Linked DNA regions of Homo sapiens. The protein of the gene in region 1 interacts with the protein of each later gene in a biochemical or structural test. Each region holds a gene or a part of one and is shown in the gene's direction. Other genes may lie near its edges. The genes, in order: BATF and HLF.

What was found.
Region 2: the proteins of BATF (region 1) and HLF interact in a test that uses a peptide from one of them, tested with the Homo sapiens proteins (one large-scale study listed by IntAct).

What each region holds. Positions count from the first base shown.
Region 1 is NC_000014.9:75,528,842-75,532,666, forward strand, and holds part of BATF (basic leucine zipper transcriptional factor ATF-like), read left to right. Parts: intron 1-3,825. UniProt on the Homo sapiens protein: AP-1 family transcription factor that controls the differentiation of lineage-specific cells in the immune system: specifically mediates the differentiation of T-helper 17 cells (Th17), follicular T-helper cells (TfH), CD8(+) dendritic cells and class-switch recombination (CSR) in B-cells.
Region 2 is NC_000017.11:55,316,861-55,320,685, forward strand, and holds part of HLF (hepatic leukemia factor), read left to right. Parts: intron 1-3,800; coding exon of another isoform or gene 3,801-3,803; coding exon 3,804-3,825.

The sequences.
Region 1 (3,825 bases):
ATGCAAAACATAACCAATTAGGAAATTAATGGAAGGAAAGATCCTGTTTATAATACCAATGACAACAGCAAATGGAAGGAAGGAATAATTTAACAAAAATTATGAAGAGTGTATCCTAAATGATTTTTAAAAGATTCAAATAATTGGAAAGATATACCTTATGTAAAGTTAGCAATTTTCCTTAAGTTAATTGATAAATTTAATGAGATCCCAATAAAAAACCCAATAGGGTTTTCTGGGATTTGGGCAAGAACTAGATTAGCTATTCTAAGTTTCCAGTGAAAAAAAATCATATGACAATTGCCAGGAAAATTCTAAAGAAGAAGTATAATGAAAAAAGATTAACTGACCAACATATTAAAGTGAAACACAAATACAGAAATCAAAACAATGTGGAAAAGACAGAACATTGAACAGGATAGAATATGGAAACAGACCCAAAAACAAATTCAGATTTTAAGACCCAAATACATATTTCAACTCCTAGGACACAAGTATAAATACAAAATGGGCTGGGCACGGTGGCTCACGCTTGTAATCCTAGCACTTTGGGAGGCCAAGGTGGGCAGATCACTTGAAGTCAGGAGTTCGAGACCAGCCTGGCCAACATGGTAAATGTTAAATTTTTTAAAAAAAGGAAGCTAAAGAAACTTGAAAAGACAAATAACCATTAAAAATTTATCTTGGAATGAGGAATTATTTTCTAAATAAAACATAAAACCCTGAAGCCATAAAGGAAAAGATTGATATACATTACTTTTATTCATAAAAAGTAAAAGTTTCTTTATAGATCAAAATACTGTATGCAAAATCAAAGGCAAATGACAAGCTGAGGAAAAATATCTGTAATACATATGACCAAAAAAGGTATGTTTACTTACTATATGAGAGAGCTCTTATGAATAGGAGATGATTAACAACCCAAAAGAAAAATGAACAATGGGCCGGGCGCGGCGGCTCACGCCTTAATCCCAGCAATTTGGGAGGCCGAGGCGGGCGGATCACGAGGTCAGCAGATCGAGACCATCCTGGCTAACACAGTGAAACCCCGTCTCTACTAAAAATACAAAAAATTAGCCAGGCGTGGTGGCGGGTGCCTGTAGTCCCAGCTACTTGAGAGGCTGAGGCAGGAGAATGGCGTGAACCCGGGAGGCGGAGCTTGCAGTGAACCAAGATAGCGCCACTGCACTCCAGCCTGGGAGACAGAGCGAGACTCCGTCAAAAAAAAAAAAAAAAAAGTAAAGAAAAATGAACAATGACTATGAATAGGCAATTTACAGAAAAGAGAAATAAGTGGCAAATAAATGTGTGAAAAGATGGTAGACCTTATTTAGTTAGGAAAATGCCAATTAAAGCAGCAGTGAGGCTGGCAAAGATGAAACATGTTGTTGATACACGATGTTGCCAAGGTAATGGAGAAGCAGGCACCATCACACACAGCTAGTAGTAGAGTCTGCATAACCCTGGTAGAAGGCAATTTGCCCACGTCCATTCAAATTATAGGTGCACATACCCTGCGACTCAGCAATTTGACATCCAGGAGTGTGTTCACAAACAAATCCACACATCATACAATTCTGTACATGTAAAGATAATCATTGCTGCATTGTTTCTTATAGGAAAGACTGAACATAAGCTAAAAAAATCCACCAATAAGGGATTCAATAAATTATTGTCCATTCTGTGGAATATTGCAGATATGTTAAAATAATGAGTTACATCTGAATGTGCTAATCTGGAAGGATTATCACTTCTGTACTTTAAGTTAAAAAGGCATAAATATAGTCCATAGTTTGCTACCATTAGTTTTTTAATTTAATGTTTTATTTATTTATTTATTTTTTATTTTTAGAGACAGGGTCTCACTATGTTGCCCAGGCTGGTCTCGAACTCCTGAGCTCAAGTGATCTGCCCTGCCCACCTTGGCCTCCCAAAGTGCTGGGATTACAGGTGTGAGCAACAGCACCCAGCCCCTTCTGTGTTTTTAATAAAAAGAAAAAGTTACATATATGCATAAGTATAAATGCAAACTTTTTCAAATAGATTATAAAAAATTGTTAATGATATTTATTTCTGAAAAGTAGGACTAAAGATCTAAAGCAAGAGGGAGATACTTGGCATTCTTTACCTTTTATACAGTTTGGGATTTTTTATCACATGCTTTTATCTTTATAATATAGATATCAAAATTCTCAGCATTGATCATTACCACACATGCATTAGGAGGATTTCTTTTCTAATTTTGACATCAAACATTGAATAATCTTCCATCACGACATGGAAGAGTATTCAATCTTGACGTTATCTTTTGAACATCATACATAAATATCTCAGCCCTTGGGAGAACCAACTGTAAGTTGGGATTTGAGTGACTCTAAGGTCCACAGTACTATATGATAAAAGATGGCAAATCCGTTTCCTTTGTGTAGCCATCTTGGTTGGTTGGTCATGGCTATCTGGTGCCGTACAGCTGGAAGGATTTCAAGTCAAAGACCAGGATCAGTGGAAAAGAGAGCTGAGGTCAATTAAGAAGCTTTATTCATGAAAAGGCTAAAATCAGTGGAGTTGCCGGGAGCAGTGGCAAATAGCAGTGTTAGCCCTGAGCCGAGCTGTTGACAAGTCATATCTGGCCTGGTGGATGGAGCTGAAAGCAAGTGAGAGTAACAGCCAAGTTTGAAAGCTTGAGATTTAGGTACTGTCTTAGATGGAAGTGGGCCAGGTGCTTGCCTGGGGCTGCCTCCTGAAGGAGTCTCACACCAGTATAAGAAAAAAGAGAGGTTTACAGGCTCCAGGGATGTGCTTTGTCATATATGACAGAAAAGTCATGAGTATAAATTATGCATTAAATGAAGCTTTGAGCTAACACTGTGAGAAATACGGTATTTACAATTGGAGAAAAATTGAGTAATGGAGGAAAAGATGTTTGGGTAGCACTATTGTTCTTGGCCTTCTGAGGAGGCAGAGAAGGATGCTTACGGTCCTATTTCACTCCTGGAATTCTTTTGCTCTCTCTGGGAGACCATGCCATAATGTTTGTTGGCACAGATAAGTCACAGGTCAGGAATGTTCAGGCTAGTTCCACCCTTAAAAAGTTCAATGTAGAATCAGTGAACCATCTATGGAAAGAGATGCGACCCTTCTGTCTCCATTGCTATGAATTTCTTTTAAGAAAAAACCATGTTAATTGAACAAACGACTATGTATTAACCACTGTGCCTCAAGTGCTCTCCCTGCAGCATCTCATTTAATCTGCATAAAAGCTGTATTTTATAATTCCTTGCATTAAGTAACTTGATGGAGATGACACAGCTTGTGACTAGGTCTGTCTGACGTCAGAACCCATTTTCCTAACCATTAAGTTTTACTGCCTCTTTCTTCAAACTCTGATGAAGATGTATTCATCTTCCCTAACCTATATTTTCCTTGAATCTCTACATGAATTAATTTTTTTGTCTTTTAAGCAATATCCTCCAAAATCTACACTGTCCCCCAGCCATCATCAGGCGTGATCAAGAAAGTAAAGACATGTTTACTTTCAATACAGTATATCCATTGTACAATTGATATCATATATGTCATATATATCATGATATCAACATATATAGATAGGTACTATATATAGATAGATACAATTGGTATATCAAATGATACAATATGTCAATTGAAATCTTTTTTGAGAAGTCTGTGTAGCAATAAATGTTAACATCTTTCACAGGAATTACCTTTGACACAACAGAGTTTGAAGAAAAAATAATTTACAAAGATGCTTAGTTCATCATTATCTGTGAATAGTAAATACTTTAACAATGCTATAAAACTTGACAG
Region 2 (3,825 bases), on another chromosome or scaffold:
TAAAAAAGGGGCACCATGGGCTCAGGTCTTGGGCAATTAGGTACCTTATTTCAATGAGATGCCTTTCCTAGTCTTGTCTTCTTAGTGATCCAATTTTTTATGGTGTTTTTTTTTTTTTTTTTTTTGAGATGGAGTCGCACTCTGTTGCCCAGGCTGGAGTGCAGTGGCACGATCTCAGCTCACTGCAAGCTCCGCCTCCCCGGTTCAAGCCATCCTCATGCCTTAGCCTCCTGAGTAACTGAGACTACAGGCGCACGCCACCACGCCCGGCTAATTTTTTGTATTTTTAGTAGAGACGGGATTTCACCGTGTTCGCCAGGATGGTCTCGATCTCCTGACCTTGTGATCTGCCCACCTCGGTCTTCCAAAGTGCTGGGATTACAGGTGTAAGCCACCGCGCCCGGCCTTTTTTGTGTATTTTAAAGCCTCGTATCTTAAACTAAAGCCAGGGATCCTGTTCAACCTGGATTTTCTCTTGAATGGAGGGTAGTTTGAAAGGATGCTGCTATGAGTGATAGACAGAACTTCCAGCCAGACTTTCACAAAGTCTCCAGATTTATCAAAGAGCAAGATTAGTTAATAACCCAGGTAACCTTGGCAACAAAGAGGCCAGACAAAAACCGTCTGTGCTGGAATTACACATATTGCTGCTGTCATGGTCAGGCCTGACCTTTCCACATAGCAGGTGGGGAATGGGCAGGAACATTGTCCTGCCAGGTGTCCTTGGATATTTTTTAGTTGTGGACGAAGTCTCAAACTAAAGACCATGAGCTAATATAAAGCAGGAAGCAGAGCTGTAACATGTTTCTCCTTCTGGCAGAAAGGTCTGAGCTAAGGGTAGATGGAGGAGAAGGTGTTTCTGGCCCCCAGCATTGGACAAGTAAACCAGTTCAATGAAATGGCCCCACTAAAAATGATCTTCCCTGTAGCTGCCTGAACTTCCTCTCTTGAGCCAATCATTAGGGTTAGCATGCATGCGCTGGAGAAAGAAGGGAGAATTGAGGTTGACATGCTGGGGTACCTAGCTGAAAATCCATTTAATTACCTTGATTTTTTAAATGCTTTTAATGGTCCATTCATTCACTTGATGAATTTTTTCAAATGCTAGTGTGTGCCAACCCTCTAACCCTGTATCAGGGGCTGGGAATACCGAGGTGAGCCAATACTGATACTGTTCCTGCCTTCATGGAACTTGTAGTCTGGTGAGAAACAGGGAGTGTTGATCTGTTGGGTGGGGCGGGGCTAAGTGGGTCCCTTGTTGCATGGAGGTAACTGGGTAGCCAGATGGCATCAGCAACTGGGAGAGGGAAAGGGGGCAGAGGATGGAGTGCCAAGTTTATCAGCCCCGCTCAAAATCCCGCTTCCCCCCTGCCCGCAACCCTTCTGCGATAACAAAGGGAGGCGAGCAGGCTTTTCTAGTCCAGGACACTCCTTTCGTCATTCCTGCCTTCTGTATCCTCTTCTGGACCCGGTTCCCAGCTCCCCTCCCTCCCACCTGAAAGGTTTGTTTTGCATTCCACACCTTGGCTGGCTCATCTGCATGTGTGGACAGGTGAGGCTGGGAAATGAGAGCACTTTAGAAGTGAGAAGAGCTCTAATAAGTTAGAGAGAAGTTGGTTGTTACCCTGAAGTCAGCTGGTGACTCCCTGGTCATTAAGACCTGGTCAGAATTGTCTTACACCACATCAAGCCTGTGGCCTATGGTGGGACCCCCCATTCCTCCCCCATCACATACATGCAGTTTCTACAGTGTTCCAGGGGCTTGTTCTTATGTACCCCTTCGCCTCCTGGGCTCCTGTTCCCCCGTGTGCAGACTCTGATACATCCTAAATCAAGTCCTCTTTTGAGTGCTCTTGGAAACCGCACTCCCAGGCACATTGTTGGGTATAGATTTACTGATACTGTGAAGGGATTGGAACCCAGGCTTCTATCAAAACACAAATAACTTCCATCAGAACTGGAGGCTTCACCACTGTTGTTAACTGGAGGCTTCACCACTTTGGGCCCCCTCACCACCATGACGTCATTGACTCGCCTGACTCCTCCCAGCCTCTCCCCTGCCTCCAGCTCCCCTGCTCGCTTTCAGAAGCACAGACAACAAATTCGGCCAACAACCATTGCACACCTGCCCTAGCTTGCTCACCCAGGTATTCTTCAAAGAGCAGCCTCCTCCCTCCTACCCAGAAGAATTCTGGTAACATCTATTTTGAAAATCGTTTTTTTACCCTGTTGCATATTGTTATGAAATGTATAAAAAGCTGGGGGTGCTTTATTTAAGATGATAGTACTAGTTTGTGGATGGCAGATAGGAGGTATCTACACAGTTTCTATCCCACACTTTCTGTATTTGTGCAGGGCAAATGCCTGTTGAGGGTAATGGGCAGTTTTGGGGGTGGACCGCTGACCTTAGACTTTCCTTGCAGCTTTGGCCCCAACCCATGTGACCTCCTTCAATGCCAACTGCCCCTTGGAATTCTGAGGGGTGCAAGCACTGGCCTGACCCATTTATTCTGGGTGGCATGTAACTGCAGGTAGTAGCATTGCTAGGACTGAGGGATTTGCTGTTGCAAATTGTTGAAAAAGGGGAGTTGCAAAATTCACCAGGTGCCACCATCAGTGAATTGGGAAGATCTAAAAGAAGATCCCTGTTTCTTAGTCTTCTTAAGAAGTTTTTCCTTTCTGTCAGGGAGGCAGCAGTGGGGGTGGAGGGCAGGGAAGGAGGGATTGTTTTTACACTGACCACAGTAAAATATTACTCAGGCTAATTAAGGCCTAGAGAATGGTTAAACAAGAAATTAGAGTAAATTATGTAAATTCTGGCCACCAATATGAGTACATTGATTAGCGGCAGGTTGAAGATTTTTTTTTTTAATTTCTATTTTTAATTACCAAAGTGTATGTATCTATTATATGATATTGTAATAGTTCAGAATAATATAAAAGGTAGAAAGTCTTACATCTTTGCCTCTGCCAATCCCCCTTCTAGAGGCTCCACCTTTATAGATTAGTATAAATCTTTTTGCGCCTCTTTCTATGAATATATGATTTTTAATCAAACTGGGATGAGACCATACATATTTGTGTGTAAACTGTCATTGTTTCCACCCACATAGTGGCATATCATATGAACATCTTTCTGGTGCAGGTGGGTCATTATTTTTAACAGCTGCCAAGTATCCCTTTGTATGACTGTATCATAACGTGGTTGTTAAATCTCCTATGCATAGTTTTTCCTCATTTTTTCTACTGCACATAATGCTGCAGTGAACAGTTTATGCTTGTGTGTACATGCACATGTATGGAGATTGCTACAGGACAAAATCCTGGAAGTGGAGTGCTAGATGAATAGTATATCCATTTAAATAGTTGATAGATATTGCCAAATTGCCTTCTAAAATTTTTGTACCAACTCATACCCAAAAAAGCATATGAGTGCCCTTGAAGGAAAAGGGTTCTTAAAATGTTGAGCAGGGAGAGTAAAGAAAGTTGAAATGTAATTTAAGGGTGAGGTGAGCCACCTGCTTTCATCCAGCCTCTGATCTCTGCTTCACTGAGCACGCCTCTGCTGGGCAAAGAGTAGGAGCCTGTTGGGACAGATCGGTGGGTCCTTGCTCCAAGAAGGAAGTGTGGCTCATGGGCCACACTCTCAGACATGCAGAAACTGTAAAGGAAGGAGACACAAGCTAAGAAACCCGGGCTGGCACCTCTGCACAATCCTGGAGCCTGCCCGTGCCCTGGCTGGCACTGGGCTTTGCTGAAATCTAATATCTTGTTTCTTTTTCCCTTCTGTAACTAATGAGCAGGATGACAAGTACTGGGCAAGGC